Homo sapiens: one gene and its partners. The protein of the gene in region 2 interacts with the protein of the main gene of each other region in a pairwise test. Each region holds a gene or a part of one and is shown on either strand. Other genes may lie near its edges.

What was found.
Region 1: the proteins of CSTF2T (region 2) and PKNOX2 interact in binary tests that used the Homo sapiens proteins (3 or more experiments, as listed by UniProt).
Region 3: the proteins of CSTF2T (region 2) and FAM168B interact in binary tests that used the Homo sapiens proteins (3 or more experiments, as listed by UniProt).
Region 4: the proteins of CSTF2T (region 2) and FOXJ2 interact in binary tests that used the Homo sapiens proteins (3 or more experiments, as listed by UniProt).

Annotation. Positions count from the first base shown.
Region 1 is NC_000011.10:125,160,218-125,167,752, reverse strand, and holds the start of PKNOX2 (homeobox protein PKNOX2), read right to left. Parts: upstream 3,003-7,535; 5' UTR 2,977-3,002; intron 1-2,976.
Region 2 is NC_000010.11:51,696,575-51,703,987, forward strand, and holds the start of CSTF2T (cleavage stimulation factor subunit 2 tau variant), read right to left. Parts: upstream 3,022-7,413; 5' UTR 2,976-3,021; coding exon 1,125-2,975; 3' UTR 1-1,124. UniProt on the Homo sapiens protein: May play a significant role in AAUAAA-independent mRNA polyadenylation in germ cells. Directly involved in the binding to pre-mRNAs.
Region 3 is NC_000002.12:131,083,455-131,090,476, forward strand, and holds part of FAM168B (myelin-associated neurite-outgrowth inhibitor), read right to left. Parts: intron 5,883-7,022; exon of another isoform or gene 5,509-5,882; intron 1-5,508. UniProt on the Homo sapiens protein: Inhibitor of neuronal axonal outgrowth. Acts as a negative regulator of CDC42 and STAT3 and a positive regulator of STMN2. Positive regulator of CDC27.
Region 4 is NC_000012.12:8,027,991-8,035,728, reverse strand, and holds the start of FOXJ2 (forkhead box protein J2), read right to left. Parts: upstream 3,014-7,738; 5' UTR 1,896-3,013; intron 1,663-1,895; exon of another isoform or gene 1,552-1,662; intron 1-1,551.

The DNA of each region.
Region 1 (7,535 bases), on a different chromosome or scaffold from region 2:
TAAAAGCCCCTTTTGAAAGCAGCACTTTCATTAACTTAAAGCAATCTATAGACTTAAAAGCAGAGAGCAGTAAACTCCCAGAGAGGATCATAAAACAGCCAGTCTCAAGTTGGGTATACTTCAGTGCAATTCGCACGAGGCATTTTACTGTGAGCGGTGGTCGGGCCCATCTCCCTCCGGTAACCCCCTGCCCCTTATTCTGAGCAGCCTCTCTTTCTCTTGGCTTTCAAGCCTTTCCCGCTCACAAAGGGGAGGCGGTGACCAGGGAGTCTCCGTGGGGTCACGGCTCCCTCCCCCCTCGGGCTCTCAGCGGGAGAGAGCTCTCACGAATTCCAAGCCTACAAAACAACAGCCTTGGAGCTCCGCGGCGGCAGTCGCCGCGCCCCGGGCCGCCGAGGCCACTCGTGGGTCGTGGGTCGTGCGTCTTCCGTGTCCTGTAAGGGCTGTCTGGCTCTCCCTGCCAGGGGTGCAGGGGGCTGGGATGGTGGGTTTAATATTAAGAGGAGGAAATCTCAAATCTTCCTCCCCTCAATGCCCTCCTCCCCCCCGCTCCCACCCCCCACACACACTCTTTCTCTAGATGCCCAGAGAATAACCTACCTCCCTGGTCGGGACCCCTTCCCACCCCACACCCCACAGCTAGGCCCAAGCTATGGGGATGCAGCCCGAGTGGGAGATTATGAGACCAGAAACGGGACCCTCCCTCCCCGCTTCCACCAAGGTCCTGGGGCCTCCGAAGGCCAGAACGGCAGAGAGAGCAGGAGGGCAAGGGCAGGGGCTTTGGGTAATACACCGTGTTATGTTTGAACACCATCATTCTCAGATTTGGGGCGGGGAGGATCGTCTAAACTGCCTAAAATGCGAAGCTTTTGGCTGCCACCGGTTATAGAGCATTTGAAACCCGAAAAGCTAATATCCTGAAGTCTCCGGACAGGAGAGATGACAGTAGGGCACTCCAAGCTTCCTCCTCCCCCGGGCGCACCAAAGGCCGGGTTTGTGGGCTTCTCAGTCCGGCGCGGGTAAGCACAGGAAGCGGCTCCAATCAGGGCACTGGAGTTTGAGCCGGTCCTACCCTGGGCCACAGCCCAGACTCCTCGGCCCACTGTGGCACCTCGCTGCTAGCGCTGCCCCCCGGCCTTCATCGCAGGCCGCGGCCCCTGCGGGCCACCGCTCCCGCCCCGCCGCGCTGCGCCCGCAGACCCAGGTGGCTCCTGGAGCACTCCGAGCCGCCTGGGTCGGGACCTCAGATCCACTCCCAGCCCCGCGAGGCTGCCCTGCCGCTTCGCCCAGAAGGTCTCTTCGATCTGTCCGCTTCCCGGAATCGCTCTCTTAGGACCGGGTCCTGTGTGGCCCAAGTCCTCTCCTCCTAAAGAAACACTTTCAGGGGGAAGCAGCAAAAATTCGGGGCTCGCCTGCCATGGCTCAGATCAACTACTTTCATCGCCTACCTAAACGCTTTTTCACACGCGGAGCTGCAGGACCCCTCGTGCTACCCTCCCCAAATTCCAATAGCTTCCACCACAAGAAAAAGCTGTGATCCTGTTACTGAATCCTAAAAACGCCACCCGTTCCTCCAGCCCCCAACTCCGACCTCCAGCCCTCTGCTCTGGCCGGCGTGTAAACTACTTATCGGCCCCTCGATCCCGATTCCGTAAACAGTCTGGATCCTATAAACCGAACTCTAGACTGGTCCTAAAACCCAGCCCTAATTCAGGCCGATCCACAAGCCCCTACCCCTCAATTCCCAACCCGAGTCTCCCCACCGCGCGGAAACCCCCGGCTCCCCCGTGAAGAGCCCCGGGAAAGGACGGCCCATTTCGCTCGTTTCTTCCTGGGGATCGGGAGCCAGGAAAGCCCGTCTCCTAACCCGAAAGAAATGCAAACTTTGAGCGGCAGATTCGGGATCCTGCGCCATCCCCCTCAGCTCTCCGCTCTCGATCGCTTTCAGTTCCCTCTTTTACGAACTCATCCCCTAGTTCTCGAGCCAGAAGGGCTCCCGATTCCCAAGCCTCGCGCGGGCCCCTACGCCCGCCTCACCAAAGATCCCCAGCAATCATGGAAAGCCGGTGACCCTACACATTCTCGCTCCTCCCTGGGTGAGGGTCCGTGCGTGTAGCCCCTCGGATCCTGGCTTCCCGGGCCCCGCCGGTGTTCCCCTGTCTCCACTGATCCGTCTGCAAACCCTCATTCGCCCTGCCTCCCCAGGCCGCGGCCGCGGCTCCTCGACTCCTCCGGTCACCTGGCCCCAGCCTGGGACCGCTCCCGCCTCCAGCCGCTGGAAAGCATCTCCAGGCTGGTGGCGCGGAGTAAGCGCCGGCCCCAAGGACGCCCGAAGCCGGGAGAAAGAGAACCTGGAGCCTGCCCGCGGTTCCCAGCCTCTCCCCGCGGAGCGCCCGGCCGGGAGCCTTCTGCACCCGGGCTCGGGCCGGCGTGCCTGTTCCTATTCTCGGGTCCCCTGGCGCTCCTGGCGCACAGCTCCCCGCCCGCCCGCTACGGGGTTGGGCCCGCGGCGATTCGAGTCCGCAGCCCGGCTCCTTGCACCCGAGGACAATGCGCGGCCGGCCACGGGCCCAAGCGCGGCGAGGCGGCGGCGGCGGCGGCGGCGGGGCTGAGCGCTGGCCGGGCAGGGGAGCGGGCGGCCCGCGGGGCTCTCGCAGCCTCCGTGCCCGGCCTCGCCGCCCCTCGCGCTGCTCCGCTCCGCGCTCTCCCGGCGCTTCCCCAGCTTCTCTCTGCACGCTCCCGCCGTCCCTCGCTGCTCCCTGCCTCCCTCCTCCCTGCTGCCTCCCTCTCTCTCCTCCCTGCTGCCTCCCTCTCTCCCTCTCTCCTCCTTGCCCTGTCGCAATGAATAATACTCTGGCTTGGGGACTGGAATAAAACACACGCGCTCTGAGGCAGCCGCCCGCAGCAGCAGCCGCCGCCGCGCCGCCGCCGCCGCCTGCAAAAGCGTCTCTGACATGGAAATGAATGACAGCTTACCTGATGCCAATCTTCATCAGACTGACACCGGCGTGACAACACAGCCTATACTTCCCAGCACTGCTCGGGACGTCAGCGGCACAGGGACCCGCCCCCCGGACCCCCCCTTCACACACCTCCCCTCTCCCCACTCCCCCTTTTCTCCCCACCCCCCATCACCCCCACCCACTCCCGGCCCGGCCGCTGCCAAGTCGGAGGAGCCGCTGGAGTGTCTCCCTCTACCGGAGGCTCTCGGGCGGCGGGCGCGGGCCTGCTCCTGCGGCAGGGAGGCGGGCGGCCTGGAGAAGCGGCTCCGCTCGCGAGGAGCCTCGGATGGGGAGTGCGGTGGACCCCCAGGAACTCTGGAGCACCCTCCCGCCCCCAAGCCAAGTCCTCCTTAGCGAACAACCGGGGCCGAGTTCCAAGATATCACCGGTGCTGAGGGGACCGAGATGAGGTGAGATTTTCTGTGGACCCCAAGAGAACTCCCCAGAAATGATGAAACTTAAAACGGGCAAGAAATCCTTCCTTCCACCAGCACTCCCCCTCCCCCTTTTCCTGCCTGGCTGGCCTCATTTTTATGATTGCATTTGAATAATTCTCATTACCCTGGCCCCAGAAAAGGTGTTCAGATGACACTCTGGTTAGTTATTCCTGGTCTCAAGAGCTTTTTCTGCTGTGGGCTTCCCGGGGTGTCTGGTTCAAGGTGGGGCAGAGGGAGAGAGGAAAGAGTGGATAGGCTTTGTCAGTAAAGCACTTCTTTGCAAATGTCAGGCAAGCCTGTTCTAAGCCACTGCTATTTTCATTCTAATAAAAAGTCCTCAAGAAACTCAGTGAGTTCCCAGAGTTCTGGGGGCTGGGGTGCAGTCATATAAAGGGAAAGACCAGCTGGGCTGTTTCAGCCTGGGCCTGCTGGGGTGGCTTCATCTACATCAGGGAGGAAATGGGCTCCTTACATGCCCTCTACAGTGGAAGACAAAAGCAGGCATGTGTAGACCCACAAGCGCCTCCATTCACTCAGCAGAGATCACAGTCCTACTAAGAGCCACACACAGGAGCACACTTGCTTGCTTCCTCAACTTAGCACATGGCCCTCCGCATAAAGGGACAAGAGAACCCCTTCTGCCTCTGGAAGTTTGCTTCTTGCTCCCCATAGAGGAGCCCTTTCAGCCAGTCAGGCAGCCATTGATCCTCTGACCCCAGGCCAGGCAGGGGGCCTGGAAGAAGCCCAGACAAAGACACCGACAAAAGCGGGAAAGCAGAAAGTGAAACCCAGCCTCTGGGTTTTCAGTAAAGAATCTGACCCAAGAAGTTGAAGGCTGCCCCTGAGCTCTTCTCAGGCCTCTGGGTCGCCACTCACCCGCCTCCGTCATGGGCAAGGATGAGAGCTGTTAGCATTGCCTGGCTCAGGGGAGGCAATTGAGACCCTTCTTATATCACATCCCAGATACACACACTACTGTTTGTCCAGATCCTCCCAATACCCTCAAATCCACCCACCAACGTTGCTTGTGGGAGAAACTCTTCAGTGGTAGCCCCCATTATAGACAGATTAGAATCCTCTCACCTTCACATAGAACCTTCAAAAACTTCACTAGGTGGATTTATGTCACCCTAGCCTCTGATCTGCAGTCAGAGTCTCTGGCTGCTGACAGCATAATCGCTATTATATATTATACATTGTATAATAATATAATAATAATGAATGCACTTGCCCTTTTTATGTGGTACAGAAGCGGCCAGATTCTCCAACCCAGAGGCTGGAGGTCAGGCTGCCATAAACTCTCAGAGGGAAGCCCTCTTCAGATAAGGGAGGGGGAGGGGAGATCCATTTGTCTCTGCCCAGGACCCCTGGAGGGAGGAGTTTCTCTCTTTCCCATGGCTCCCAGTGAGTTGCTGCAGCCTGCAGAGTCAGAGGGGAAAATCAGGCTGAATTCACCCCATCAGAGAGGTGTCAGTGAGCCATAAATAGGACCGCAGGCAACAGCCTTGGATCACTGATTTACACCTGTCACACCCCTCGTTTTCTGAAATCTAGATCAATGCCCAACACTTTCCTGATATGGGAGATCCATTGCCATGAGCTATTAATTTTTGGAGTCTTCAAATACTATGATTTTCACTAATACCTTTTTGGTGCTTTAAACTGCACATCGTAGTTTTAAGTAAATATATCTTGCTTTGACTATTTTTGTCATTTGCAAGAGCTTAAAAAATGATTATCCAAAATATAACCATCGTTTTTATAATCACTGAAGGCAAATATTTTCCCTGCACCCACCAGAAGCTCTGCTGTGTGCTAGCACTAAGAATAAAGAGCAGAAGCAAAGAGGCTCAGGTTATGGCTCCTGTCCTCAAGAAGCATTCATTTGTTGAAGAAGACAAAGCGCCAATATGTAAAACATTAAGTAGCAATAATACAGGAATCAACAGAAGACACAAGCTAGTAAATACTTAATGAAGAAATGAGTTGTCAATATGTCAAATTCCATGAGTTCCACATCTCAGTTTTGGCTCTGTCAATGAGTAGAGAAAGGATAGAGTAGAAATTAAGAATTCACTACAGATACTCTACAATTTCTTCCCCATCATCCCTCTGAGGATGAAGAAGAGAATGGAGAGGAATGTACATGTTGTATTGCATAAGCCATCAACACACTGACATTATAACCAAATAGAAGTTTCTACAAATCCTAGTTATCACTCCTAAATTTTGGAGTTTCTGTTTGGTTCTGGGCCCTCTTCTCACTCTACCTGCACTTTGTCTGTGGTATAAGCAGCCCACACCAGCCCAGGCTGCCTCCTCCAATCTTCCAATGTGGGTGATCAATGGCCCAACTGAATTCTGCCAATGTCACAATATGAATAAAAATTTAAGACCTGTCTGTATTAGTTTGCTCAAGCTGCCACAACAAAATGCCACACACTGGATGGATTCAACATGAGACATTGATTTTCTTACAGTTGTGGAGGCTGGAAGTTCAAGATCAACGTGCCAGCAGAGTTGGTTTCTGGAGAGGCTTCTCCTCCTGGCTTGTAGATGGCACCTTCTCACTGTGCCCTCGCGTGGCCTCTCCTCTGTGTACACAGGCAGAGAGACAGCTCTGGTGGTCTCTCCCTCGTCTTATAAGGACAGTCCTGTTGGATTGCGGCCTAACCTTATGACCTCGCTTAACCCCCCTAAAGGCCCTGTCTTCATATACGGTCACATTGGGGGTTAGGGTGTCAACATATTAATTGGGGTGGCGGACACAATTTAGTCCATAATACCACCCAACTACAGTTCCCTTCACTCTCAACTTAATTATTTTTAATGAATATTGATAGATTGCGAGTTCCCTGAGGATGGGGACAATATCTTATTTCATCTTAGGATCCCTAAAACCTGGTCCAGTGCCCAATCCAGAAAACATATTAAAGAAATGCTTGTTGGATTGAACTGAATGAAACATCATTGTTCCAGTCCTAGTTGACAGACTTATCACTAGTCACCTGGAATATTTTGATAATTTTTTAACTGGTCTCAATGCCTCCAGTATCTCCAATCCCTCCTATACACTTGCACAAGGATGTTCTTCCTATAACAAAGGTTGGATCACACCTTGGTTTCTCCTGAAAATCATCAGTAGCTTTCCATTGCTTATAAGATTTAGCCTAAAAAGTTACTGGGCCTTATAATAAAAAGAAGGACCTTGAATGCCACACTCCTTACTTAGCAAGGTCTTCATGTTAGTCCTCATCTGGCCCTGATCCCCTTTCAGGCTAATCTGCTCCATTCCTGCCAACGCCTCCCCAACTCCACCTTCTAGTGATTTCCAGTGCTTCCTGCTGCATCAGAACCCCCACCCCAACCCCCGGGGAACTTCTTTATAATTCAGGGTTCCAGGTTCCACCCCTAGAGAAATCAGTCTGGAGAAAGGCCTTGGAGCCCGTATTTTAAAAGTCACTGCAGTTGTGAGGTTTGGGCACTTCCATTCTACCCAGCACTCCTGCTCCAGCTCATGGGCCCCAGAGTACATTCTGGATTCTGGGCCCTTCCTGTACTTGCTCACACTCTTCCTTCAGCCCCGGGTTTTCATTCCCCCTTTTCCTACCTTCTGAATCCTATCTGCTTATAAGCTTTCATGGAAACATCACCTCTCTTCAAAGGATCCTTGGATCCCCCAAAAGAGAACACCAGCTCTGGGATCGCCAGGCCCTGGCTCAGCTCTCCACCCTGTAATGAAATGGCCAGCTATCTGGGACATTACTGGTGAGTGCCAAGTCTCAGTTTCTGTGTTTGTGAAATGAGGATGATAATAGAATCCAACTCATGACACCATGGGGATTAAATAAAATCACAAATCTAACGAGCTTAGCACAGTCCCTGGCACATGGGAGGCTCTTCAATAAATGAATGGCAGCATTAGGTTTAATAGCCCTTTACACAGGGCTGCCCAGTGCTTTGCATTTGCCTTTGCCTTTATTATAGTGCTTATTTAATTGGCCTGAGGAAGGGAGATATTGTTTACAGAGAAAGCTGCCACAGGCCCTGAGGGCTGCAACACGGATAATGGGAGCAAGGAAATGAGGGCAGGGGG
Region 2 (7,413 bases):
GATGCTCGAGGCCTGGCAGAACCTTGCTGGTCTCTGTAGGGTGGGATAAGTGAAGCAACATTAAACCAGGTGCAGTCCTTAATTTCTCAGGTAACATAACTTTAGAAAAAACAATTCTAATACAAGTTAACTCCTGTCTGGTTGAGCAAATGGACACCATCTGTATACAAACGTCAGATACCAAGAAACTCAGATCTTTACTTAGTGAAACCTTCCACTACTTATGAAAAGTCAAATACCATTTATAACTCATCTAGATCAACCAGTCCCTAGACACTGATTTTTGGGAAGGATTTTTAGAGAATTACTGACTCAGATTTAGGGCTTAAAGACTATTGAGAAATAGGAAGGTATTGAGAGACTGGGTTTCATCAGAGCGGACTTAAGTAACCTGGTTGATCTTAGAATTGTCACAGCAAAATCATCATGCTCAGATGCTTGGGGCCTGGCAGAACCTTGCTGGTCTCTGAAGGATGGGATAAATGAAGCAACAGTAAATCAGGTGCACTCCTTGATTTTTCAGGTAACATAACTTTAGAAAAAAACAATTCTAATACAAGTGTAACCTTATCCTGTTAACTCTGTTTCAAAAATAATTCTAAAACACTAAGACAATGCTTATCCTATTGCCTCCAAAATAGGATTTTGTATTTTAAATGGTTTACCAAAAAATGTATCTTATACTTTTGGGTAAACTTTTATTTTGTTATACAACCAAAAATCTTAAAACTATCTTAGTACATTAACGTTTTAACAGGTCAACTTTTAGTCTTTATGAGCAGTTTTCACGAAGTTTTACTCGACATTTAAAAAATGTAGTTAACATACTGTAGATGCTTCAATATTGCTGCTTATTCTTTGTAATCTTATTTGGCATAATATAATCATGTTCAGAGTTATTTTAAAGTAACTTAAAGTGAACAGACGCACTCCCTCCTCCCCCCACCCTCAATTAAAAAAAAAAGGAAAACAGAAAGAAAGAAAAAGAACAAAAAATAAGATTAGGTTCTAGGAGGAGGGAAACCCTAATCCAAGTGTGGGGATACAGAAGTCAGCTTTTTGCACCCATTCTCCATGCTACAGAATAAAATTTGAGACTACAGCCAAATATTTTCTAAAACCTTTCAAGACGCTCCAGTGGATTTCTGGATTTGTTCCTTTAAAATCAGGATACTCTGCCTTTGCTCAGGGGGCAGCATGGCAATCTGATCTGCAGTCAGTTGAAGAACCTGCATGATCAAAGCTGCCTTCTCCTGATCCTGTGGAGTGACCTGGCTCTGCCCAGGACTAAAACTGCTAGGCTGGCTTCCACCTTGCTTGCTTGCCCCCTGTATACCTCCTCCTTGTATACCTCCTCCTTGTATACTGACTCCTTGTATGCCTGCCCCCTGCATCCCTCCTCCTTGTATGCCTGCTCCCTGCATGCCTGTTCCTTGTATGCCTGTACCCTGCATACCAGCTCCAGGATTCCCCACCCCTGAAATGCCTGGGACCTGTCTGGGTCCCTGAGGAGGGCCACCTGCCCCTATATTAATGGGACCAGGACCCTGAATTCCACCAGTCATAGGGCCTCTTGAACTGGGGACAGGGCCCCTCATCTCCAATCCTCTTGCATCCATGCCCCTTGCTTCCATCCCTCTGGTTTCCATCGCACAGGTCTCCATTCCTCTCCTCTCCATTACACGTGTCTCTAAGACCTCAGTTTCCATGGCACGAGTCTCCATCGCTCGAGAATCTCTACCACCTCTACCATCCATAGGTAGACCCCTTTGATCTATCATGGGGCCTCTGGGCTCTCCAATTAGCAGTCTGGGATCTCCTAATGGCCCTCCCCTCATCTCATGTGAGGAAGGGCCACGAGTGTCATGACCAGAGGCATGATGCATGGGGGGACCCTGATGGGGTGGACCCAGATAACCTCTGGGCTCCACTTCTCCAGTGACTGAAAGCAAAGTCCCTCCACGTGGGTCATTTGGAGCATCTCCTAACAGTCCTCGAGGAGGCAGACCACCAGGAGTCACGGGTCCGCGAGGTATAGGAGCTCTAGGATCTGACATCTGCACTTGTCCCCGCTCTAAAGGCACTGGGCCAACCCCTGGCATTCCAAGTTGGGGCTGCATTGCTCCTCCAGGAGTTAAGGAACCAGGACCAGCTCCGGGAACTGCAGCTGGTATTGGCCCTGGAGCTGGAATTCCACCCTGGATAGGAGTCTGCATCAGAGGAGGAATGTCCTTCACAGGTCTTCTAGCCAAATGCTGAGGCTGAGGAGCTGGAGGATTCTGCTGGTTCAGCAGAACATTAGGTCCTGGGCAGAGCCCAGGGCCAGGGCCAGGGCCAGGGCCAGAGACAGACACAGACTGAGATTTGCCTGGGATCAGTGGTGTGACATGTATCTTCCGATGCAGAATTTTCAGAGCAATCTCTGGATCCATGATTCTCATCACTACTTGTGCCTGCAACAGTGCATAAGCCAGTTGTGGATTTTGAAGTAACATGTTTCGAGCTTCCTGGTGGCTGTTTTGGACACAGAGCTTCATCTGCTTCATCAGCTCAAACATCTGCTCCGGGGGGAGACTGGCTACTGCTCTGGTAATCGATTCAGGGGCATCTTCTGGATCGATGGGATCCCCATAGGGTGAGTCAATAATGGGCGCTGCAGGCCCAAGGCTCTTTAACTCCTCCTTATTCTTTTCACTGGCAGCATTGTCCACCCGAAGCGCTCTCCCACTGAACTCCCGCCCATTGAGGTTCCGCATGGCACTAAGCGCGGTCTCCTGGTCTTGGTATTCGCAGAAGCCATAGCCCTTGGGTTTTCCCGTCTCTCTATCGTATACCAGCCGGAAACTGACAACAGAACCAACCTCCGAGAAAATGTCCTTTAACTGCTCCTCAGTTGCCTCATATGGAATGTTCCCCACGAACACGGAACGCAGTGATCGATCCATTGCCGGGTCTCTCACCGCCAAACTCGACATGATTCCGGTTGTGCAGACAGCCGATAGCGGATTCTTCGAGGCGTCTGTCCTCTTGCGACCGACACTTCCGCTGAGCAACGGAAGCGGCTTTCAAGATCCGGGCAGAAACTTTACTAATTCGCTTGAATCGTTCCGCTTGCCTGTGGAACCTGCATCCCACTAACAACTTATCTAATGCTTTCAGTCCCTGATCCTTCATGGTTCTGTCAGCTTCTTATTACAGAGTCGCATGATTCCTTTCCCATTTCACGTTCCGCTGACTTTCTGTGGGGCCCCAACAGCCCCACTACGACACGCTTGGTACGAGATGACCACAGTAAAGATGGCCGCATAGACTTCACCGTAGTAACTGGGAGGGGACTCTTCCCTTGACGTCAAAGGCGGTTTTGCTTCCGTTCCGCTGGCGGGAAACCGCCAACCGAAAGCGGATTTAAGGCGGCGTGTTTTTCGTTCTGACAAAGTATTTTCATGTGGCCTTTTATTATAGTATAGTTAAGCTAGATTTAAAATCACATTCCAGACTGAGGGAAAAGCGTAGTCGTTTCAGCACATTTGAGATTTGCCCCTTAAACTAAAACAGTATTATATCTCCTTTTTAGAACAACGTTTTTGGAAATTAACTGACAAGAAATATAAACTGAAGCGTGTGCCGGCTGGGCCCTGCCCCCATTCTGTTGCTTCCTATAACCGCTGTTAATGGATGGGTGGCAGACCCTTCTAGGTTTTTCCTGAGCACACGGGCAGCCGTCGTGCTATTCCTAATATTACGGTTTTCTTCCTTAATAACAACCGATTTCAATATTAATTGGTGATTAAATAAATTAGTGATTAATTAGTTATTAGTATTTTATGGCTTCAGAGTATGGAATAAAGAAATTTACTTAACTATCCCTACGTTGATTGGTTCTGATTTTTATTATATCATGCAGTGAGTCCACCACTTCCATGAAGGGAGAAACAAATAGCGGGTGTTTGTCTTCTGCTGTTAGCTTTGCAGGTAGGAGTTAAAACATATTCAGTGTGGTGTTTCCCCGCCTGCAATTCGAAGCTAGAACTGAAGCTTGGAGAGGGCTAGGTAAATTCCCAAGGACAAGCAGCTGGAAAGAGGCCAAGTCAGGATTCTAACCCAGCTTGGTCTCGCATAGCTCCAATTCTACACTGCCTTACGTGTATTGAATATATGAAATGAAGCTAGTGTGATTGAAGAAATGAATTTTAAATCTCATTTTTTATTTAAATATAAAAACTAATGTTCAGTAAGCTATTGGAAAACTTTTTTAGTATTTAGAACAACTTGGATATAGAATCTACTTTTGCAATAATAAATTGTGTTCTAAATAAAAATCATTTTGAAGAACACTAAGACAAAAAATAAAAACAAATAAAAAGAAAGTATTTCCAGTCAAAATTTAACATACTGGTTGAGGTGTGCCATACATGTAACATACATGAAAGATTTTAATGATCAAATACAAAAAAAGTAAAAATAGCCCATCAATTTTATATTTTTTATAAGTCGAAATGTAATATTTTTATATATTTGAGTAAAAAATTATTTTGAAGTTAATGTTATTCATTTCATTTTACTTTTTTAAATGTGGCTATTAGAAAATTTAAAATTATATGGATAGATTGCATTATACTTCTGTGGACTGGACTGCTCCAAGCCTGTGCTTTAATTCCAAAACAGAGAATTATTTTATTCTGAAATATGCCTCTTAAGTGGATTATGAAACTTTTAAATTTCAGCAAAAAAATTGTATTATGTATCTTCAGTATCCTATTCCAATGAATAGATTTGACATGAGTATGATGGTTTAGCTGCAAATAAGACATCCATTTACCTTCAAGTTTTTGAAACAGTTCTGCACTTAGCTGTTCACCCAAGATGCGCGACAGTTTATATTTGCAAGTGACAAGGTTCATTTACATCACCTAATAAGATTTTCCTGCTATGTCAAAGAAACGGAATAGTCACCTGCTAGCAATGTTTCCCCAGTGTGATTCTTTTATTGGGGACGAAAGGGGAGGGGTTAAGGATAGTATCATTTAAAAAAACTAAAGACAAATCTATTTTTCTTCCTTCTATACCATCACTTTACAAAGAGAAGGCATACCTTTTTTATACACATTCTGTCAAGGGTAACTTACAAGTTGAATATGTGTGTAATTGTGTGTGTATTAAATGTAGTAATCATGAAGATGGTAATGGGGTATTATAATATGTTGCAAAATTCGTAGAAGATTGCACATCTTGACAGAGTTTCTTTACTGCTGATACTGTCTAAACCAGTGGTCTTCACATGTAGCAGAACCACCTTGAGCCATGGCTTGTTAAGTCAGATTCTGCTTTATCAGGTCTGGAGAATTTGCATTTCTAATAAGCTCTCAGGTGATGCTGATGCTGCTGGTTTGGAGATCTTTAAGAATCATTGGTCCTAGGGATTGGTAGTAGATTTTCTCATTTACATCAGACCAAACTAAATTTGGTACACTCTATTAAAAGGTTTGAGGTAAAGGTTTTTAAAACATTATGAATTTACTATTAATATACTATTCTAGTACATGCTGATCTGCTACTGAAGATACCCTGGACATGAAGACTGGGTGAACAGAGAGTAGCTGAAGGACTATGGGACAAACAAGAAGGGGGAAGTTATGACTGTAGAGTGTGCTTTAGTCACAGGCTTTCCATGTTCTCTTTAGTCCCACTGTTCCAAACTAGAAGAATGGTTTGTCATGCCCCCGTTCATACAGGACCAGTGTGACCCACCATGTAATTCCATGCCCAGAACACATGAACTAATACTTATTGTTAACTCAATGTCCCCAAATCAAGAGCTCAGATAAACCTATGTATATTTCCTGGTACCAGTACATATTTTTTTATAGATCTAACTTGGAAGAACATCCATTTTTATACTGCTTTTTTATTCCCATAAAGTTTAAATTTTAGATATTTATAGCATGGCATACACTCTGAAGAAAAGTGTACATGGTATAGTGTATGTCCAGACGTTGATTCTTTCAACAGATTGATACCAGATATATTAAGACTGATTTCAAACACACAAGAGCATCTATGGCCAAATGGAAACTGTCCTTTAATCACTTTCAGAAACTACAAACTTAATCCATTGTTCAAAATGAATTTTTTTTTTTTTGACACAGGATTTCACTCCTGTCAGCCAGGCTGGAGTGCGATGGCGTGATCTTGGTTCACTGCAACCTCTGCCTCCTGAGCTCAAGCAATTCTCCTGCCTTAGCCTCCCGAGTAAAGACTACAGGCGTGTGCCACTACTCATGGCTAATTTTTTGTGCGTTTTGTAGAGACGGGGTTTCACCGTGTTGGCCAGGCTGGTCTTGAACTCCTGAGCTCAAGCGATCTGCTTGCCTCAGTCTCCCAAAGAGTTGGCATTACAGGCATGAGCCATTGCACCTGGCCTCAGACTGATTTTTGAACTTCTACCCTGAAATTGCTTTGGGCCTTCATTTATAAGTCATACTAGAAAATCGGTACATTAACTGAAAAGTATACTTTATTTTTAACAAAGAACAGGATTATGCAACAAAATCACCCAACTTCCTGACCAGATTTGGCAAAAATATCATGCTTAGCTAATTCCAAATATCAAACCTTACATCAGAATACAAAAATTCTATACACTTTGAAGGAATTTTTTAAAAAAAGATTCACTATAGAGTGTAAGGAAAAAAGAAAAGATTCACTATTGATTCAGTAGACAAATTCCAAAGACAAGAACTACAAATATTTTGAGTAATGACAGTCATTTTTGAAATAAGTGTACGGGTCCTTCAAGGAATAGCTCAAATAAACTACTCCACAAAGCTTTCTATGACCTTTCTACCCTTTCCCCTAGGTTAGAAGTAATTTTGTTTTTCTTTGGATATAAACCTTGATATACCTTGTACCTTTCTGATTATAGTAACTCCTTTACCTTTCAGCAAAATTGTGATTTTCCTTCTAAACTGTAAAATCATTATATATCCCCCTTTATCAGTTAACTAAGTGCCTCAAATTTATTATTTCATTCCATCAATATTTATTTCAAGCACTGACAATACAGCAGTGAAAACAATAGTCTGCCAGAAAAGAAGGTCTGTAAATGTGGTCCTTGGTTCAGTGGCATCAGCATCACCAGGAAACATCTTAGAAATTAAAAGTTTGGGGCCCTACTCCAAATCTATTGCATCAGAAACAGAGAAATCTTTGAACAAGTTTTCCAGGTAATTCTAATGCAAGCTCAATTTTGAGAACCACTACATTATAAGATTGCAATCATAGTTGCCAGGCACAGTGACTCACGCCTGTAATCCTGGCACTTTGGAAGGCGGAGGTGGGTGGATCATTTGGTCAGGAGTTCAAGACCAGCCCGGCCAACATGGTGAAATGGTGAAACCCCGTGTCTACTAAAAA
Region 3 (7,022 bases), on a different chromosome or scaffold from region 2:
ACTTGAATCCAGGAGGTGGAGATTAGCAGTGAGCCAAGCTCATGCCATTGCACTCCAACCTGGACAACAGAGCGAGACTTTGTCGCAAAAAAAACATGGGGAAAACCCTACAAGTAACCAAAATGTTCTTCTAACAGAGGATAGTTAAGTTAACCAAGACATATCCAGAACATGAAATATCACGCAGCTGCTTTTCAAGAAATGTTTAAAAACAGAATAATACAATGTTAAGTGAAAACAAAGTAGAGTATTATACTGCATCCTGCATTACACAGTATGATCCCATATAAACACCTATGTGTATAAAAATGTGCATCCCTGGCACAAACAGAAAAAAAGTCTGAAAAGAAATATATAAAAATATGAACAGTGATTGACTCTAGATGGGAGTGGATTTAGTGGTCCTTTTGCAATTTCCTGTATTTATTTATTTATTTATTTATTTATTTATTTATTTATTTATTTTCCCAGACGGAGTCTCGCTCTGTCGCTAGGCTGGAGTGCAGTGGCATGATCTCAGCTCACTGCAACTTTGCCTCCCAGGTTTAAGTGATTCTCCTGCCTCAGCCTCCCGCATAGCAGGGACTACAGGCGTGCGCCACCACACCCAGCTAATTTTTGTATTTTTAGTAGAGACGGGGTTTCACCATGTTGGCCAGGATGGTCTCATCTCTTGACCTCGTGATCCGCCCACCTCAGCCTCTCAAAGTGCTGGGACTGTATTTCTCCCCTCCGCCCCCCCCACCCCACCCCAAGACAGGGTCTTGCTCTGTTGCCCAGGCTGGAGTGCAGTGGCACAATCTCAGCTCACTGCAACCTTGACCTCCTGGGTTCAAGTGATTATCCCACCTCAGCCTCCCTAGGAGCTGGGACTACAGGTGTGGTGCCACCACATCTGGCTAAGTTTTGTATTTTTTTTTTTTTAAATAGAGATGAGGTTCCATCATGTTGCCCAGGCTGGTTTCAGACTGCTGGGCTCAAGATATCCACCCACCTCAGCTTCCCGAGTAGATGGGACTACAGGTGTGTGCCACCATGCCACTCTAGTTTCCTGTATTTCTTCAAAAACTTGTTAAGTTTTTTTTCCTAAGAAAGACTAACTGGTTACAGCCCAGCACCTCTATGAATCCATTCAATGTTTTATCATCCATGGATCTTTCTTTTTCCTGACAAGTTCAAGAACTTGCACAGCCACAACCAGGACTCTACCCCTCCCCAACAGAAGTACTGTTGGGAACTGATTCCCATTCAGCTCTCTAGTAAGCTCCTCTGAATCTTATCCAGGGTATTATTTACTTTTATTTATTTTTTAGACGTGGTCTCGCTCTGCCAGTCATAGCTCACTGCAGACTTGATCACCCAAGCTTAAGTGATCTTCCCACCTCAGCCTCCAGAGTAGCCAGGACTACAGGTGTGCATCGCCACGTCTGGCTCATTTTTAGTAGAGACAGAGTTTCACTACGTCACTCAGTTTGGTCTTGAACTCCTGAGTTCAAGTGATCCTCCCGCCTTGGCCTCCTAAAATGCAGTGTATTAAAGTGTAAGCTTTCACTATTCCTCATCTGGTAAATCACTCACTGACGTATGTGGTTATAAAGATTAAGGTGATCTTTAAGATTAAAACAGCATGTGTGGGGGTAGGGGGGTATATGGGAACTCTCTGTACCTTCTGCTCAATTTTGCTGTGAACCTAAAACTGCTAGACCTAAAAAAAAGTCTATTTTTAGGCTGAGTACAATGGCTCATGCCTGTATTCCCAGCACTGTGGGAGGATCGCTTGAGGCCAGGAGTTCAAGACCAGCCTGGGCAATATAATAAGGTTCCATCTCTGAAAAACATGTAATAAGTAACAAAACACAAAATGTGCATTTTATGTCTGTCTTCCCCACATCCCCATTTAGAATGTAGCCAAAACAAGCAGGGAACAGTTGCACTTGGTTCTGTTTAAAGGCAATATCTCCAGCATCAATAACAACATCTGGTACAAAATAGCTGCAACTACCTACCGACTTTCTAAAAAACAAATGCCTTTCAGAACACTCTAGGTGTCAAAATCCATTACGAAGACAAAATACAAAAAGAAACCACTTCAAATTTTCAGCTCATTTGTCTCATTTAGAATATTCACAACCAAGCAATCCTGTAGTAAGAAGAAAATATTAGGTCACATCCTTAGCCTCTGTAACAGGAAGTTCTGGATTAAATCAGGAATAAACTGGCAACTTTAGTAACTAAAACATTCATTACCTGAACTGTCTAATTTTTTTAAACTTCTAAACCAAATCCAAATGCCAGATTTGTCATGCCATTCACAACTACAGCTACGTGATAGGTCTTGACCAGCACTGACCAACAAAACTTTGTACAATGACCACATCCTTCTCCATCTGTGCTGTCCCCTACAGCAGCCGCCTGCCAAGAGTGCTGAGCATCTGAAAAGTAAGGCTAAATGAGGCTACTGTGAGATTGATCTTTTAGCTTTATTTAACTTCAACATAAGTAGTCACATGTGGCTAGTGGTTACTATACTGGACAGTGCAGGCCTACAGTTCAGAGTAGGGAGGAAACAAGTATACAAAGGCATAGCAGGTAGGCAGGAGAATCAATTGTGTGTCTTACCCTACAGTTTAGGAATAAACATACTAGCAACTGCCAATCCCTAGTCCCCTGTACTTTTAACCCATGCTTGGCGGATCTGCAACCAAGAAATTGTGGGGGTCTGCAAATACTTCACCTACTTCTCTGGTTCAACTATCATCTCTCAAGAAGCAAATATTTCCCAAATGTTATTTCTTTCTTCTGTGCCAGGAGCTACTAATTTTTATTTCTTAATTGAATTCCAGATAAGCAAAGCACTACACAAAGGCCACAGAGAAAACAAAATGGCAAGTCACAATCTCTTCTGAGTTTTACAATCTGGAAAAGCGCTGTCCAACAGAACTGTTCACAAAGATGGAAACGAGCCCTGGCAATATGGCAAGACCCTGTCTCTACAAAAAGTAAAAAGATCAGCTGGATGCGGTGGTGCACACCTGTGGTCCCAGCTACTTGAGATCAATTGAGTCCAGGAGTTCGAGGCTGCAGTGAGCTATGATCGTTATCACTGCAGTCCAGCCTAGACAATGGAGCAAGACCCTATCTCAAAAACAAAGATGAAAGCCTGTCTGTACTATCCAAATATGGTAAGTGAATTTTTAGTTTAATTAACTTCAACAGTCCTATGTAGGTGACAGCCATCGTATTGGACAGTGCAAACATATACATAATAAGATTAAAAGTATGAATACTTTCTGATACAAGGCAACAAGTGTTAAGAGTCACAAGAGAAAGGCCGGGCGCGGTGGCTCACGCCTGTAATCCCAGCACTTTGGGAGGCCGAGGCGGGCGGATCACGAGGTCAGGAGATCGAGACCATCCTGGCTAACACGGTGAAACCCCGTCTCTACTAAAAATACAAAAAATTAGCCGGGCGAGGTGGCGGGCGCCTGTAGTCCCAGCTACTCGGGAGGCTGAGGCAGGAGAATGGTGTGAACCCCAGGGGGCGGAGCCTGCAGTGAGCCGAGATTGCGCCACTGCACTCCAGCCTGGGCGACAGCGAGACTCCGTCTCAAAAAAAAAAAAAAAAAAAAAAGAGTCACAAGAGAATAAAGTGTTCTGAGGGCTGAGAGGGGAGAGCAAAAATTCTGTGGAGGAGGGAAGAAATAGGAAAAACTTGATTAAAGGGCAGCGTTAGGCCAGGCACAGCGGCTCATGCCTGTAATCCCAGTACTTTTGGAGGCCAAGGTGGGAGGATCACTTGAGGTCAGGAGTTGGAGACCAGCCTAGCCAACATGGTGAAACCCCATCTCTACTAAAAATACAACAAAAATTAGCCAGGTGTGTTGGCAGGCACCTGTAATCCCAGCTACACAGGAGGCTGACGCAGGAGAATCACTTGAATCTGGGAGGCAGAGGTTGCAGTGAGCTGAGATCGTGCCACTGCACTCCAGCCTGGGCAACAGAGCAAGACTCCGTCTCAAAAAATAGTAATAATAATAATTAAAGGGCAGCATTTCCAATAAACAATGGATAGGATCAAATCAGCCTCAGAAATGAGAACAAGCAAGATGCATTTTAAGAACATTAAGCAACTGAGTTTGTTTGGAGCTTAGGCTCTATGTAGGGAATCAGTAATAGATGATTGTGGAGACACAGCTTAGGTACAACCACCAAGTGGAGACCCTTAAATACAGGCCTGAGTGGAGATGTCCTCTGGTAGGCAAAGAAGCTCCTGAGCAACTCTGAGGTAAACAGAGTTACCACATGACCCCACAATTCCACTCCTAGGTACATACCCAAGAGAAGTGAAAACACATGCTACACCTACAGTTGGACATGAACATTTGTAACAGCATTATTCCTAACAGCCAAAAACTGCAAATTCAAATGAAGTACTGAAGGATGTTAGGAGGCTCTCCTTCCATAATGACCTGACTTATAGCCTAGACCAATAATAATAAAACTCTACTTGGCTGGTTGCAGTGGCTCATCCCTGTAATCCCAGCACTTTGGGAGGCCGATGAGGGCGGATCACTTGAGACCACGCGTTCGAGACCAGCCTGGGCAACATGGTGAAACCCAGTCTCTGCTAAAAATACAAAAATTAGCTGGGCGTGGTGGCACACACCTGTAATCCCAGCTACTCGGGAGGCTAAGGCATGAGAACCGCTTCAACCTGGGAGGTAGAGGCTGCAGTGAGCTGAAATCGCACCACTGCACTCCAGATGGGGCAACAGAGCAAGACTCTGTCTGGGGGGAAAAAAAAATCAAATGGAGCCTTTACATCTAACTTCCAGTTTACAAGAAACGCAGGAGTAGGAGGGAATATGCTGAATGACACCATGAAACAATCAGACAAACCCCAAAAGTGGGACATTCCAGAGGACAAATGACCCAGTTTCTTCAATAAGGCAATGGTGGGGGGAAAAGGGGGCGGGAGAGGAGGAAGGCCAGATAATTCTAAATTAAAATAGATATAGACATAAAAGCAATAGCTGAATTTTGTTTGGACTCGATTTAGACTGAAACAACTGTAAACAGAGTTTAAAGATATCTGGGACACGACTGAATACTGGGTATCAGCTGGTATGAAACAATTATGTTTAATCCTGGTAACAGTACTGTGATTATGTATAGTTACATAAATTTGTAAAGATACAATAAAGTATATAAAGTCGAAAATGATACATCTATACTTTAAAATATTTCTACAAAAAGAGCAAATAATCTCTACATCAAGTAGAAATTATGTAAATGCTAATAATCTTTACATCAAGATGTTGCATATAAGGTTATGCACTGTACTGCCGCATTTTCAATTCTGCATAATGCAAAACTAAAGAAAAAACACACCATCACCAATCTACCTGAAATGTTAGTGCTACTAAAATCTCCCTGCAACCACCAACTTTCCAGTCTAATTTGCTGTGGACTAAGAAACCCAAACCCAAGGCTGGATCTAGAGCGTACCACTTTTTTTTTTTTTTTTTGAGACAGAGTTTTCACTTTTGTTGCCCAGGCTGGAGTGCAATGGCGCGATCTCAGCTCACCGCAACTTCTGACTCCCAGGTTCAAGCGATTCTCCTGTCTCAGCCTCCTGAGTAGCTGGGATTACAGGCATGTGCCACCACACCCAGCTAATTTTGTATTTTTAGTAGAGACGGGGTTTCTCCACGTTGGTCAGGTTGGTCTCGAACTTCCGACCTCAGGTGATCCGCCAGTCTTGGCCTCCCAAAGTGCTGGGATTACAGGCGTGAGCCACTGCACCGGGCCGAGCTTACCACATTTTTAGTTTCCCATTTGAAATGACTCAACTGTCAGAATTCTTATGGGTGGTTTGACACCTGCATTAGAATAGACAAATGTCAGATTACCTTTAAAAAGATGACAGCAAAAATTCCTAACTTGAAAATCAAATCATAATCAGAAGAAAACTCTATCTTTAAAATGAAAGACCTGGCCAGGCGCAGTGGCTCACGCCTGTAATCCCAGCACTTTGGGAGGCCAAGGCGGGTGGATCACAAGGTCAGGAGATCGAGACCATCCTGGCTAACACGGTGAAACCTGTCTCTACTAAAAAAAAATACAAAAAGAAAATTAGCCACTCACAACTACTTGGGGAGGCTGAGGCAGGAGAATGGTGTGAACCCGGAAGGCGGAGCTTGCAATGAGCCGAGATGGCGCCACTGCACTCCAGTCTGGGCAACAGAGCGAGACTCCATCTCAAAAAAAAAAAAAAGAAAGAAAAAAGAAAGACCTGGCTGGGCATGGTGGCTCACGCCTGTAATCCCAGCACTTTGGGAGGCCAAGGTGGGCAGATCACGAGGTCAGGAATTCCAGACCAGCCTGGCCAACATGGTGAAACCCCGTCTCTACTAAAAATACAAAAATTAGCCAGCGGTGGTGGTGCACACCTGTAGTCCCAGCTACTTGGGAGGCCGAGGCAGGAGAATCACTTGAACCCAGGAGGCAGAGGTTTCAGTGAGCCGAGATCATACCACTGCACTCCAGCCTGGGCGACATGGACGCTCCATCTCAAAAAAAGAGGCCGGCGCAGTGGCTCACGCCTGTAATCCCAGCACTTCGGGAGGCCGACGAGGGCGGATCACGAGGTCAGGAGATCGAGACCACAGTGAAACCCCGTCTCTACCAAAAATACAAAAAAAAAAAAAAAAAAAATTATCCAGGCACGGTGGCAGGCGCCTGTACCCAGCTACTCAGGAGGCTGAGGCTGGAGAATGGCGTGAACCCAGGAGGCTGAGCTTGCAATGAGCCCAGACCGTGCCACTGCACTCCAGCCTGGGCGACAAAGCGAGACTCTTGTCTCAAAAAAAAAAAAAAAAAAAAGAAAGAAAGACCTATCACTATATACTATTGTTTCCTGGTTTGGAAACATACCATCTCTAAACAAAGTTCCACACAGAGCACTAAGTATGAAATACTATAACACGAGGCCTTTAAAATTTTATATCAACAAATCTAAT
Region 4 (7,738 bases), on a different chromosome or scaffold from region 2:
ACTGATTCCAGAGAAGCAAGCAGGGTTAGGGAACTCAGTCCAAGCAGGGCCAGTTAAACTGCGTGGCGGTGGTGTACTTGGAGATGTTGTGATATAGTTCACCCTGAGCCATTCAGGCAGGTGCACGCCAGCATCTGGTGAAGTACTTTATAAGAAACAGGCTGCTGTTAACCAGCGAGGCCTCTTTTGTAAAAGGTAGGGGAAGGAGTTCTGGAGTTAGGAGTCAAGGATCCTCATCCTTCTGAGACCAGAGGTATCAGCAATGAAGCTCTCTTATTAGTCCTAGAAGAAATGATCCCAGCCTGAGACTGGGTTGCCCTGCTGCTTAAAGGACTGTCCTGTAGACCGTCACGAGGGCTCCCATTGACTGGGGGGAGGCCAAGCCTTTCCCCTCAGGTGGCCATCCTTACCACCACCTATCCATGTCCTTGTACAGAGGCACCTGCTTCTAGAGGCCCACCAGAAACATACAATTCTAGGTAACTGGAGTATAGTCTGAAAAGCACATAAGTACCTGTCTCCACACACATACCCACTTGAAACAGAGAGCCACATTCACATGAATTAAGAAGTATATGCATGTTGTCCTATAGCACAGCCACACAAACCTGTGCCCTATCTCATATACCACCAGTAGCTTCCAGGACAAATGACTGTACTCAGGAATTTAGGTAGACCTCACCCATGCCCCAGAGAGAGGAGGAAATATGAAAGGCCAAGTCAGATGAAGCCTCCTTCACAACTTGTCCTTGCTGTGAGACAGAAGATAAGGTATCTGCTAATGGTGAGGCAGGAAAGCAGACAACCAGCTAGTGACCTCTCCTAAAAACAGCCTAGGCTTCAGGGGAGGATTTCCTGGTACCCTTTTCCTGCCTTTTCTGAAGATTCTGGACTTTGATAATTCCCTAGCTTATGAAGGAAAACTTTAACACAAGGTTCGAGGGACTCAGAACTGAACAAGAAACAGGAAGGGAGAGGATGAGACTATTAGGTACTTTTCTGGAAGGAAACTTTATATACTCCTCAGAAGTGAAATCTCTCCAGTGGTCAACTTGTTTAACTGGAAGTCTGGACAGAAGCGGAGCAGCAGCCCTCCTCCCTTCGTATCCAGGATCTAATTTTTCCTGAAGAATTGTGAGCAAAAAACAGGAGTCGAGAAGGGGACTGGGGCAGTGGTTCAGGGCCAGCATCAAGGAAGCACTTTAACCCGGGAGTTGGCATTCCCCTGCACACTTTCTTCTCGCCTCAGAACATGTGGGATTCCCATTTTCCCTTTGGATTTTATGGGCAGAGGCATACATCCAGCTAGGAATGGAAATGTCAGGAGAGGAGGCCTCTTGGTATCTGAGATAGGATGAGCAGGAACAGATTGCTTTTCTTGTCAAGGGAGCTATAATTGCAGTAAGCTGGAGGGAACACCTCTGGTGAACACTAAGCTGACCTCGGCATGCCCTGGGCAAGGCCAGGACCCCAGATGCCACCGTGATTTTCATGACAGCCCACTCTCCAGGGGAAAAGGCCCAAGGGTGAAGGGTGGTATGGGAATCTTACCACTGGTTGGGTTGTGTAAATCACTGCTACACAGTATGCATGTTCTCAAAATGCAGCTGTTTTCCGATAACCCTTTTCCTCAGCATGAAAACATCCACTTCCCTAAGGGACCTAAAATGAATCCCATCCCTTTAGTCCCCAAACACTAAGAAACCCATTTCTCAGAGCTTCTGCAGCAAGATGTGGGTTCAAATCCAGGAGCTCCCTTGGATCACATTTCCCATTGGATTTTCTGAGTCATCACTCTGTCTTCCCCGGCAGTGAAACCCACGATCCACCAGCTCAACCCCCTACACCCACTAGTGCCAGACAATGACAGAGAGAAGATGAAAGAAAGCACTAACCTGTCTCCAAGGTTCCTCCGGCAAAGGGAGGGAACCACCTGGTACTGGAGTTTGGGGTTGGAGGGATTCCCCTCTTCAGAGGCAGGTGACGGCTCTCATCCTCAGTGGCTCTTCCTGGACGAGGCTGAGCCTCCCAAGTTGGTGAGGGGAACTGGGTCCCCTGAGGATGAGGAGTCAAGGTTGGAGGAGGGGGAGGGGGAGGAGAAGGAGGTCCTACTTGGGGAAGGTGGCACACCCCCCACACCCTGCTTGTTACCCGGGGGAGGAGGGGAGGAGCCTCTCCCAACCAGGAGTTGTCTCCTCCCCCTTGGGGGAGTTCCCCTCCCCCCCAAACTGGATCTTTCTGAGGTGGAGGGCTCTTTCTGTCTGCTGGAGATAGGAGCGGAGGGGCTCCACCCCGTTCCACTGTCTAGGCACGAGGAAGTTGAGGGGGAGGTCTTCCCCTCTCCAGAAGGCTGAAAGCCGATTCCTCTTCTTTCCCTGGAGTGGCTTCTGAACGTAAGGACTCCTGTCTCCTGTGAATAGTGGTGGGCCGAGGGTGCCTACTCCACAGGCACAGCCCCGTCTCTCTTTGCCTCCAAAGTCCTGAACTGTTGAGAGTGTGTGTTTGGAGGGGCGGGGGCGCGCTAGGGTGGTCTCACTCTGCTTCCCTACGGAAAGCTCCCTTCTTTCCACTTCTGGGGGTCTCCTCCCCGGCCAGTACAGGGGTCTTCCTCGCCTCTAGGCAGGAGAGAGGCGTCCCCTCCAGGGGTCTCTTCTTTCCCTCACCCGAGTGGTAAGGGTCTTTTCTCTCCAACAGGGGGAGAGGTTGCTCGCGTCCCCGCTCCCGCCTCCGCTCCCGGGGTGCCCCAGAGGGTGGGGCTTTCGTACTCCCGGCTGTCCCTGAGCTGGCCTGGGCAGCACGGTCCGGGAGGCCGCGGCTCGAGACTCCGGTCCCTGCTACTGTGGCGGCAGCACCTCCTCTAGGGCCGTCCTGTCGGGTCCGCTCCCTTCGGCGCGTGGGGCTCCCCGCGCTGCCACCGCTCGGGCTCCGACCAGTCTGGGCTCCCGGGGAGCCAGAAGGCGGGCAGACAGTGTCAGGGCTCGGCGCGGGCTCGGGCTCGGCTCGGCTCCGCTGCAGGCCCCGGCTCCTCCCCGGCCTCCGCGCCGCGCTCCGCGCCCCTCCCCCTCCCCCGCCCGCCGGCCGCTGCCGCCACCGCCTCCCGGCGCGGGTTAAGGAGGAGCCGGGAGACGCCGAGCCGCGGGCAGCGCCGAGCCGCGAGCCTCGCTACCCGGTGTGCGCTCCGCCTGGAGAGCCACGGCCGCTCTCACGCCGGCGAGGGATCTCGCCGCCCTCGCCCACCTGCGGCCGCGTGGCTCCGGGAGTTCGCCGTCTACCCGGGATGACAACTCACTGCTCCCCGTCGGGAGAGTCCCTAGTGCGCACCGTATACCGTCAATTCCAGCTGACACCCCAACTCCGGCGTTTCATTCTGTTAAACTCCGTATACAGATGAACAGCCCCAGCTTTCTCAGGACTGTCTTTGATGGGCTTCTCTTTCCCTCGAGATAATTTATAAAGGATCATGAGCATTGAGGTGAAGATTGGGGTGAAGTTTATATGTTACCCTTATATCATCCTGGAATTCAGTAAATGCTCCTTGAATGAGTGGATACATGATAAATGAGCGTGTAACGGTGAAATAAACATCAGAAGATCTGGGTCCTGTTCCTTGTTTCAGCTTCCTAAACTTGTGCATGGCCCTTGTTCTCCGCAATCTTGCTCAGCGAAGAAGGGACCTTGATACTTGGCCTGCTTACCCTTTACAGCTGTCACATCCTGAAGTCATATTATTCTGCTGCAAATTCTCATATATTTCATACTCTGGCTTTTTTTTTTTTTTTTTTTTTTTTTTTGAGGTGTTGTTTCACTTATTGCCCAGGCTGGAGTGCAATGGCACGATCTGGGCCCACTGCAACCTACGCCTCCCGGGTTCAAGCGATTCTTCTGTCTCAGCCTCCCCAGCAGCTGGGATGCCTCAGCCTCCGGAGCAGCTGGGATTACAGGCGCGCGCCACCACGCCCGGCTAATTTTTGTATTTTTAGTAGAGATGGGGTTTCACCAAGTTGGCCAGGCTGGTCTCGAACTCCTGACCTCGTGATCCACCTTCCTCGGCCTCCCAAAGTGCTGGGATTACAGGTGTGAGCCACCGCGCCCGGCCCATACTCAGGCTTTTTAAACTTTTATCAAACTACCCTACTTTCTTTCCTTTCTTTCTTTATCTTTTTCTTCTTTTTAAATAGAGGCAGGGTCTCAGTATGCTGCCGAGGCTGGTCTTTAATTCCTGGGTTTAAACTATTCTCCCTTTTTATGCCTCCAAAGTGCTGGGATTACAGGCAGGAAACACGGCCCGGCCTACTCTCTACTTTATAGCACATAAGATAATAGGAGGCCAGGCGCAGTGGCTCACGCCCGTAATCCCAAAGCTTTGGGAGGCCGAGGCGGGGGGATCACTTGAAGTCAGGAATTGGAGACCAGCCTGGCCAACGTGGTGAAACCCCTGTCTCTACTAAAAATACAAAAATTAGCCCGGCGCGGTGGCGGACGCCTGTAGTGCCGGCTAAGGCAGGAGAATCGCTTGAACCCGGAAAGCGGTGGTTGCAGTGAGCCGAGACCGCGCCACTCCACTCCAGCCTGGGCGACAGAGCCAGGTTCCGTCTAAAAAAAAAAAAAAAAAAAAAGAATTAGCCAGGCGTGGTAGTGCGTGCCTGTAATCCCAGCTACCTGGGAGGCTGAGGCAGGAGAATCACTTGAAACTGGGAGACGGAGGTTGCAGTAAGCCCAGATCGTGCCGCTGCACTCCAGCCTGGGAGACAGTGAGACACCGTCTCAAAAAAAAAAAAAAAAAAAGATAATACGAATACAAAAATATTGCTTGCAAAATATTTGAATTGCCCCCAAAAGACTGCATACTTAAGTTGTATGTATATATTATATGAATAATTATATTTACAATATGCCAGGCATTGCACTGAGCATTCTGCATGTGTTGTCACATTGATGATTCTAGCGATTCCCTAAGACACTATTATTATACTTCTTTTACAGATGAGAAAATTGTGACTTACAGATACTATGTGTGAGTTCGCTTAATTAGTAAGTAGCAGAGTCAGGACTTAAATCCAAATGACTCCGATGCCCAGCTCTTGACTTCTATACCATTGTCCGGAGCGATCAGAATTTAAAGTCATCCTCAAAATTAAAGGCAGTAAACCAAAACAAGCCTGTTCTTCCTGCTCACACTTCCTATATTCAGGTTTAAAGATGTATTTTTCCTCTCTTTGAGGCATTAAATAATTCTCCCACACGCAGATAATTTGGCGGCAAATCTTTCTTGCTATGTATTAGATGTTTTGTTATGTTTCAACCGTTTTTGACATTTCCTGTGTATGGAAATTGGAGGGCTTGAGTGACAGGCAGTTGTACTAAAAATGGAAACATGAGGGAAGGATTAGAATCTTCCTGGCAATTTGGAAAAATAAAAAGCTCAAGAAATTATTTGGTTTTTACAAGACATTTGCTGCAGTATTTTTTGTAACTGGAAAATTAGAAAAGACCTAAATATCCAAAATAGGGTAATTTTAAATATATTATGGCACATCTGTACAACAGAGTACTATTTAGCATTTGCAAGAATAATTGTATTTATCTCTGAAAGGTAGAGTGAGTGGAGTTGTTTTATTTTTATAATGTTCTTTATCATTTAGATATTTTGCAGTAGGCATACATTATTTTAAAGAACCATTGTTTTATATATCTGACTTATTTGAGTGAGAAAATAATATTTTAAAATTTGTATAATGCAATCATATAGTTGCTTTTTAAAATATATATATGTTCATGCATATATTTGTGTGCATACCAATAGACACATAGAAGATGGATACACACCAAAGATGTGAGTTTATGGATTATTTTAATTTACTTCATTTTTTAATGTATCTATAATTAGTGTTTGTGTAGATTTGCTTATGTAATTTTTAAAATTAAAAGAAACTGACAAGGCTGGTTTGGTATGGTTTTGCCCTAAGATTGGGGGGAAGCACTTACATTCATTCTCACTTTACTTTCTATTAAGGCGGGTAATACGGAGAAGGATTTTTTAAGTCACTGAAACATACAGAAATTAAAATGTAAGGATCCACTCTTCTTTGTAATAAAACATGTTATATAATTATTCATGAGTGTTAATTTACCTTGAGCAAAACTATTCTTTATAAAATTGGAGACTAATATGCTACAACGCACGTTTTGGAAGCACTTATTAGAGACTGTGTATTACGTGAAACAAAAATAGTGGTTCTCAACTGTGAGTCCTAATAATTGTGAGAATTTAGGTAAGTCATTTAACTGCTTTGTGACTCAGTTTCCTCATCAGTAAAATGGGGATAATAATAGTACCTATTTCATAATGTTGTGAAGGGATTATGTGCCTTTATACATGTAATATATTTAGTTAAATGCCTGAAGGAGGAAGGACCTAGAGACTGAGAGGCTTATCAACCAAATGCAATATATGTGGACCAAGAGACATGTCCATCAAATACAATATGTAGACCTTTTGAGGGATCCTGATTAAAACAAAGCAACTGGAAAAAATATTATGAGACAACTGGTAAAATTCCAATACTGAGGGCGATATCAAACAATTATTGTATACTTTAGGTGCTAATGGAATTACCATTTTATGAATATTTATGAATACTAAAGTATTTAGACATGAAATGCCTGAAATTTGCTTCAAAATAATCAAGTAATGGGGGAGAGGAGTACAGATGATAGATGAAAGATTGAACGAATGTTGCTTTTTACAACAGTTTTTTTAAAATGCTATTCTCTGGGCCAGACGTGGTGGCTCATGCCTGTAATCCCAGCACTTTGGGAGGCCAAGGCAGGTGGATCACCTGAGGTCAGGAGTTCAAGACCACCCTGACCAACATGGAGAAACCCCGTCTCTACAAAAATATGAAAATTAGTTGGGCATGATAGCAGGTGCCTGCAATCCCAGCTACTCGGGAGGCTGAGGCAGGAGAATTGCTTGAACCCGGGAGGCGGAGGTTGCAGTGAGCTGAGATCGTGCCATTGCACTCCAGCCTGAGTGACAGAATGAGACTGTCTCAAAAAAAAAAAAATCTTATTTTCTCTACTTTTGTGTGTGTTTGAATTATTACAAGATAAACAATTTTTTAAAAAGTACTGTTTAGCCGAGCGTGGTGGTTCACACCTGTAATCCCAACACTGGGAGTCTGAGGCGGGCGGATCACGAGGTCAGGAGTTCGAGACTAGCCTGGCCAATATGGTGATACCCCTGTCTTCACTAAAAATGCAAAAATTAGTCGGGTGTGGCGGCACGCACCTGTAGCTCCAGCTACTCGGGTGGCTGAGGAAGAAGAATCGCTTGAGCCTGGGAGGCAGAGGTTGCAGTAAGCCAAGATCGCGCTACTGCACTCCAGCCTGGGCGACAGATCGGAGACTCCATCTCAAAAAATAAAAATTAAATTTAAAGTACTGTTTAAAAATGCTGGAACATAGCTAGGACTATGTTTACTATTATTATATGCTTTGTATGTGTAATACTACCTAATGTCTGTTTACACCTTTCAGATTACAATGTTTTCATTTACACTAGGTCTTTTAGGATTGACACTAAACCTACGAGGTGGGGAAATGTTATTCCCATTTACAAATGAGACAACTGAACCACAGCCAAGACCGCATCTCCACTCTTCCAGATTCCTGGGGACCTGTGATCAACGGAGTAGGGGGTAGCCTGCCGCCACTAGACACAGAGTTCTGACCTCTT